Homo sapiens: one gene and its partner. The gene in region 1 interacts genetically with each later gene. Each region holds a gene or a part of one and is shown on either strand. Other genes may lie near its edges.

Region 1 (3,500 bases):
TTTCTCCCATTCTGTGGGTTGTCTCTTCACTTTGTTGATTGTTTCCTTTGCTATACAGCAGCTTTTTTACTTGATGTGATCCCATTTGTCCATTTTTGTTTTGGTTGCCTGTACTTTTGAGATCTTTCTTAAGAATTCTTTCCCCAGACCACTGTCCCAGAGAGTTTCCCCAGTGTTTTCTCTTGGTAATTTTATAGTTTCAGGTCTTATATTTAAGTCTTTAATCCACTTTGATTTGTAAAATCAGGCTTTTATCAGCCTTTTATCAGGTTGGGGAAGTTTTTTTAATCATGATTGGATAATGGATTTTGCCAAATGTGTTTTCTGCATCTATCAAGATGATCAGATGGTTTGTGACCACATTCTACTGTATAGTGTATTATATTAATGAGTTCAGATGTTAAACCAACCTTCCATTTCTAGGATAAACTCCCCTTGATCATAATGTATTATCCTTTGTATATGTTGCTAGATTTGGTTTGCCAATATTTTGTTGAGGATTTTTGTGTCCATATTCATGAAGGGTATTCATTTGTTATTTTCTTGTGATGTCTTTGTCTGGCTTTGGTATCAGGGTAATACTGACCTCATAGAACAAGTGAGAGTTTCCTTCTCTATCTTCTGTTAGAGTTTTCAAAATACTCATGTTGTTTCTTCTTTAATGGTTTGGTAGAATACATCACTGATGCCATCTGAGCCTGGGCTTAACCTTGTATAAATATTTTTAATTACTAATTTAATTTTTTTACTTGTTATAGATCTATTCAGATTTTCTATTTTTCTGTTATTTTTTTATCACTATTTTTTTGGTATTTTTTATCTTTTTAGAGTGTTTTTCCAGTGCGTTAGCTTACATATGGGTAAGTTTGCTTCTTAACTAGCGTACACTTTCACTAGTTAAGAAACTAGTCATAATGGCTTCTTTTTTTTAACTTTTTTTTTTTTTTTCTGAGACAGGATCTTGTTCTGTCACCCAGGCTGGAGTGCAGTGGTGTGATCTCAGCTCACTGTAGCCTCCGCCTCCTGGGCTCAAGCAGTCCTCTCCCGTCAGCCTCCCAAGTAGCTGGAGAAGCCGAGCGCCACCACACTCGGCTAATTTTTGCAATTTTAGTGGAGACGGGGTTTTGACATGTTGCCCAGCCTGACCTTGAACTCCTCGGCTCAAGCCATCAACCCATCTCAGCCTCCCACAGTGCTGATATTACAGGCATGAGCCACCGTCCCTGATTGATGAGGTTTTTTATTTCCTAAAAGCCACTGCCCTGAGGGCCCCTGCCCCTTCCTCAGGCTCCCCTACATCTCTCCACAAGTCAGCCTCCAACGGTTCACACCTGGAAAAGCAGGGGACCTTCAGAACTGAGCTCCAGCCTAGTTGGCACCTATATAGATTGGTTGGCCCTCCTGCTATTTCAGTTATTATTTTGAACATCACCACTTGGAAGACTGAGACTCCACTTCAGACCTCTTCTTCCTAACACCCTGATCTGGGGCTGATTATGTGCTTTAACATTCTACTGGGCAGGTCTGGCAGAAGGAACAGTATCAACTGACTGAGTAGGTCTCATTGGCAGTTGTGATTCAGAGACCTAGAAAGCTGAACCCACGGCTGGCAAGAAGAGGATGGTTTGTGGGACCTGGGCTGATGTCTGATGAAATTTTAAGCCCCAGCTATAGCTACTACAAAGAAAAGTGGCTGATGATAAGCATGTAACTCAAAGTAAGTGAACTGAGAAGCATGTTTTTTGTTTGTTTGTTTGTTTGTTTGTTTGAGACAGTTTCGCTCTTGTTGCCCAGGGTGGAGTGCAGTGGCACAATCTCGGCTCACTGCAACCTCTGCCTCCCAGGTTCAAGCGATTCTTGTGCCTCAGCCTCCGAGTCGCTGGGATTACCAGGTGTGTGCCACCACACCTGGCTAATTTTTTGTATTAGTAGAGACAGGGTTTCTCCATGTTGGTCAGGCTGGCCTCGAACTCCCGACCTCAGGTGATCTGCCAGCCTTAGCCTCTCAAAGTGGTGGGATTACAGGCATGAGCCCCCGCGCCCTGCCTGAGAAGTATGTTTTTATGTTGAGGATGTTACTGTGTGATGCCACATACATTGAAACACATACATTTAAAGTAAGGCCACAGACTCAAATGCCTCTAGAAGCCAGACAGGTAGCATACCTCCTCCTTTCATTGATTCAGAGACGTACATTTTTTTTGGCATTTGAACATCTCTGAAATTAGAGTGAACGTTACAATTGCAAGTCAAATGGTGTATAAAAAAGCAGCATCTTTATAGTCAGTGGTGCTTTAGATTAGACGAAATAACAGAAAATGAGTGGTGTTGGCCAGGAAAATTATATCCTTCTCTGTTGGCCTTTCACTTTGAAAGAGAGAAATGGATACAGAGACCTACTTTCCTACAATAAGACACAAGAACAATGACAAATGGGAACGACTTTGCTGCCTTCATGTCCGGTAGCCAATAGGGATTGGTGGCAACAGGCAAACTGGAGAGTACCCTTGCCCCCAGGGCAGCTCCCCCTCTTCCCTAGCTGATTATTGCCTGTGGTGGCATAGATCTAGTGTTGACAAGTGTTCTGAGTTTTCAAAGGAAGTCAGAAACCCCAAAATCTACATCTTCATGTGAAACTCCTAATTTTAAAATGATGGCTCAATTTTTTTTAACTGGCGAAAAAAAATATATATATACAAGTTAGATGAGCCTATGAGTGCTCAGAATAAATATAACCTCTCTTTTAAGGATGCAATATTAAGAGGCAGCATGAGACAAACCAGTTTTTACAATTAAGCCAAAAAAGAAAAGTTAAATCCATTTCGAAGTTTAACACTAGGTTCAGAGGCCCAGAATAACAAATACTGCAGGGCCTCTTACTTATTTCATCTTTAAACTTTCTTTTCTGCCTCCCACTAAATGGAAGATAAGAAAATATAGTTAAATCTATTGAAGATGTTGCATTCCTGTTTATAAAAATGTATGATCACTTTTTAAAATGCAGGCTTAGGTTTCCAAAGCAACAGCATTTGCTTCCCACTGCTGTAGACTGTGGTCAGTGAAAGGCAGGATGATGTCATGGGAAACCCCCAAATTATGAGAAGACCAGGGTGCTAATTCTGGCTGTGTGATGTGCAACTGATTTAGGTTCATTTCATCGTCTTTATTTATAAAATGGGGATGATAATAGCTACCCTCTGTACCTTACATGGTTGTAAGGGCCACATGAGATAAAACATGTGAAAGTATAAAGTGTTATGTATATATTAGTTGGTATTGCCCAAATCACATGGGTAGTTGGGACAGCACAGGTTCTTGAATCTCAGATTCTCCATCTCTGGCTACTGCTCTTTCCCTAGACTGCAGCACCTGTTGAAATGGTCATCTTATCAGCCAGTGGGGTTGAACAGATGAGGAAGCATAAGGCAAGAAGTTATTAGAAAAAAGTTAGCCAACATCTTAGGATCTCAAATAGCACTGTGTCTCTGTACAACAGGGTG
Region 2 (3,500 bases), on another chromosome or scaffold:
TGGCTTTGAATGCAGCCCAACACAAATTCATAAACTTTTTTACAACATTATGAGATTCTTTTGTGATTTTTTTTTTTTTTTTTTTTAGTTCATCAGCTGTTGTTAGTGTCAGTGTATCTTATGTGTGATCCAAGATAATTCTTCCAATGTGGCCCAGGGAAGCCAAAAGATTGGACACCCTTGGGTGTAGAGAATTATTTACTGTAAGTTTTGATAAGATAAATTGGTATAACTGCTTCGGATAGAAATTTGGTGGTATCCATCAAATTTTAAAACTTCCTCTTGTAGCAATTTTTTAGGAATTAACAGATACAATTATACAAGCATGCGGAAATTTATGCAGAAGGATATTTACTGGAGTATTGTTTGTAATTGCAAAAGACTGCAACCAACCCAAACTTCCATCACAGAGAAACAGTTAAATTATGATACATCCACCATATATATCACATAGTCATTAACAGGACTAAAATAAATTTATATGTACTAATAGGAAAAGACAGCTATAATATATTAAGGCAAAAGCAAGTTGCCAAATAGTGGGTATACAGATTTATTAATATTTAAATAGATCTATAGGTATATATATATGCATACACATATATACGTACATACACACACACATATCTTTTTATATTCATAGAAAATGCTACATCATACCAACTATTAATAGTGGTTTTCCGTAAGGGATGGTTATCAGAAAGGAGAAACAGAAGACTTAACTTTTTCCTTTAAATTATTCTATACTGTTTTACTTTTCTTTTTAAATAACTAGCATATTACTATTGTAAATTTTTAAAAAAAGTCACTTAGATAGGAAAGTTGGAACAGTAATGCCAACAAGACAGAGAAGAGTCACTAAATATTTAATTTCAACTTGTGATGAAAGCAATTAGGAAATAAAAAATAAACAAGGAGATCTATTTATAGACTCTTCAAGGAAGGCCTCTGTGAGAAAGTAGTACTTATACTGAGATGTAAGAAAGCACCAACAAAAGAGTGGGGAAGGGGTCACATGTTGAAAAGAAGTAGTTTTAGTCAAAGGGAAGAGCACGGTCTAAGTTCCTGGACAAGGAAGAAAAACATACACTGTTTGAAAAACTAAAAGATAGCTGGTATAGCTGAAGCTTAGTAGGTAAGGAAAAAAGAGGAGACGCAGGTTAAAGAGAGATAATCCACAGCTTTGTTGGTCACAGTATACAGTTTGGATTTTATTTGAAATATGACGGGCAGCCATTGAAGGTTGTTTTAAGCATAGAAACGCCATTTTTGCCCATCCAATTTTAAAAGGCTATTCCACTGTTTGGAGATAAGAATTGAAAGGAGATAGATAAAAGAACTGCAGTAGTCTCATCAAGAAATGTTAACTTGTTGTAGAAAGAAAAATGGAGTCTGGGGATACGGTTTTTGAAAGAATGAAACTTATTGATAGAATGGAGACTTGGGGAAAAGAGAAATTGGAAGAATCAGAAATGATAGCTGTTATCAAATAAGTAAATCATAATTTTAACCATCACCGCTAGCACGTTTATATCAAATATCACACTAGTAAAGACGTTTAATTAGAATGCTCTAAATTTCTAAATATTATTTACCTCACTGCTTCATCATCTGCTTCCCAGATTACTCAAGTTTTAAAACAATTTAGTAAATACAATCTTAATGAACACTATAATACATATATCTAAAGGTATGATTTTCCAAGAAAGAATAAGTTATTCAAAAAATATTTACTGAGTACCTACTATATGCCAGTCATTGTATTAAGTGCTGGGAAAGAATTCAATGTAATATTTTGAAAAATAAACCAACTACTCTGTATAATGCCGTATAATTATTTCCAAGTATCATTTTAAGAATTCTAGTTAATTCTTAAAATTAACTAGTCATAGAATAGTTTTACCTTATACATTACTCACACTCAAAAACAACAAATAATTATTTTACTACTTTTTAAGATGCTTTTCAAAGAAAACTATTTCATATTTCATACATACCTTTTGAAGATTGTTTCAAAGATTCAGAAAGTTTCACCAAAGATTGCTGTCCAACAGCTTCCTCCAGTAATGGGTTGACACCTTTCTTTTTCTCCACACCCTGTGTAATTTTGGTATCAGACATACTTCCAGTTATACAATTTTGATTAAACTGAGAAAGAATCTGAGAATTTTTCATCCTTGTAAATGTAAACTTTGAAAATCCAACTGTTGTGTTAAGGTTGCTCTGAGCTTCATCTGTTACAGTCTTATGGCATGGCTGATTAGTACTCAATTTCTTCTTATAAGTAGTAATTTCTGTATTCATATGATCTGAAGTTACATTCAAACTTGAACTTCCTGGAAGAACCAATTTGGAACTATTCACTTGTATTGGAACATCAGTGTTAGTATAAGACACATGCAGATTATTTATCTGACAGTTTGAGATCTTAGAATACATAGTCAAATTTGTGGCACCTAAAAATCTTGGAGAATTTCCATACATTTCCCCTTTCTCCATCTTCATTGGCTTATCTATTTGTGAGCTATTTGTCAAAGATGTCTGCACTGAAATGCTGCCTGGATTCAAATGCTTTGATTGTACCAAATTACTTCCTTGTTTAGATATAGCAAACATGTTTTTGGCTCCATGTTCGGAATTATTATTGATCTCACATATACTTTCTGATGTCTTACTGTCCTTTCTAATGTCTTGTTGCTGAGTTAGTTTGGCTCCATGTTCGGAATTATTATTGATCTCACATATACTTTCTGATGTCTTACTGTCCTTTCTAATGTCTTGTTGCTGAGTTAGTCTTTCAATATCATCACATGCTTGGTACAACAAATCATCATCTACATCATCTGCTTCCCAGGTATTATCTAATTGATGACATGCTTTAATAATTTCATTGGCAAATGAGGGATCATTCCAATCATCAAAGAAAGAACCTACTTTTGATGCACTAGTCTGATTTGGGTTACTAACACTGGTTTTACTGCCTAGATTTGCAGAGCCAAAAAGATCAGTATTAACAGGGGCTTTAATAGACTGATTTAAAATGCACTTATTTTTCTGTTCATTAGAATACCTTGTGTTCAAAGCTGACTTCCTTTCAGAAGCTTCAGTAGAGTTAGTAAGAATATCTTCCTTTATTTTTGTCAGATTAGATGTAACTATACAATTTTGAATTTCGTCTTGAATAACAATTTTATTGGAAGAGTTCTCAAATTTCATTTTATTTCCAGTGGATAATTTGTTTGATTTATTTGAATTTGGTGAAAATCTATATTCTGCATCTATTAATTCTCTGTCATATGTCTTTGAAGAAAGATCTTGTAATACTTTTGAATCTCCTAACCTGGCATCTGGACTTGTATTTGCTCTTGACGTATTTTTAACAGTTTTACTATTAAAGGTACAAATTTCCTTTTGATCAGTAACATGGGCTGTTTTAGAAGGAAAGAGTTCAGGCATGTCGATATTTTGCATAGCAAAAGGTTCACTACCTAGTAAGTTTT

Evidence for each region. Genes that interact genetically often act in the same process or in processes that back each other up.
Region 2: changes in TTC23 (region 1) and ETAA1 are lethal when combined (synthetic lethality), as found in Homo sapiens cells (one large-scale study listed by BioGRID).

What each region holds. Positions count from the first base shown.
Region 1 is NC_000015.10:99,239,582-99,243,081, reverse strand, and holds part of TTC23 (tetratricopeptide repeat protein 23), read left to right. Parts: intron 1-1,522; 5' UTR 1,523-1,717; intron 1,718-3,500. UniProt on the Homo sapiens protein: Participates positively in the ciliary Hedgehog (Hh) signaling.
Region 2 is NC_000002.12:67,403,833-67,407,332, reverse strand, and holds part of ETAA1 (ewing's tumor-associated antigen 1), read right to left. Parts: coding exon 1,998-3,500; intron 1-1,997. UniProt on the Homo sapiens protein: Replication stress response protein that accumulates at DNA damage sites and promotes replication fork progression and integrity.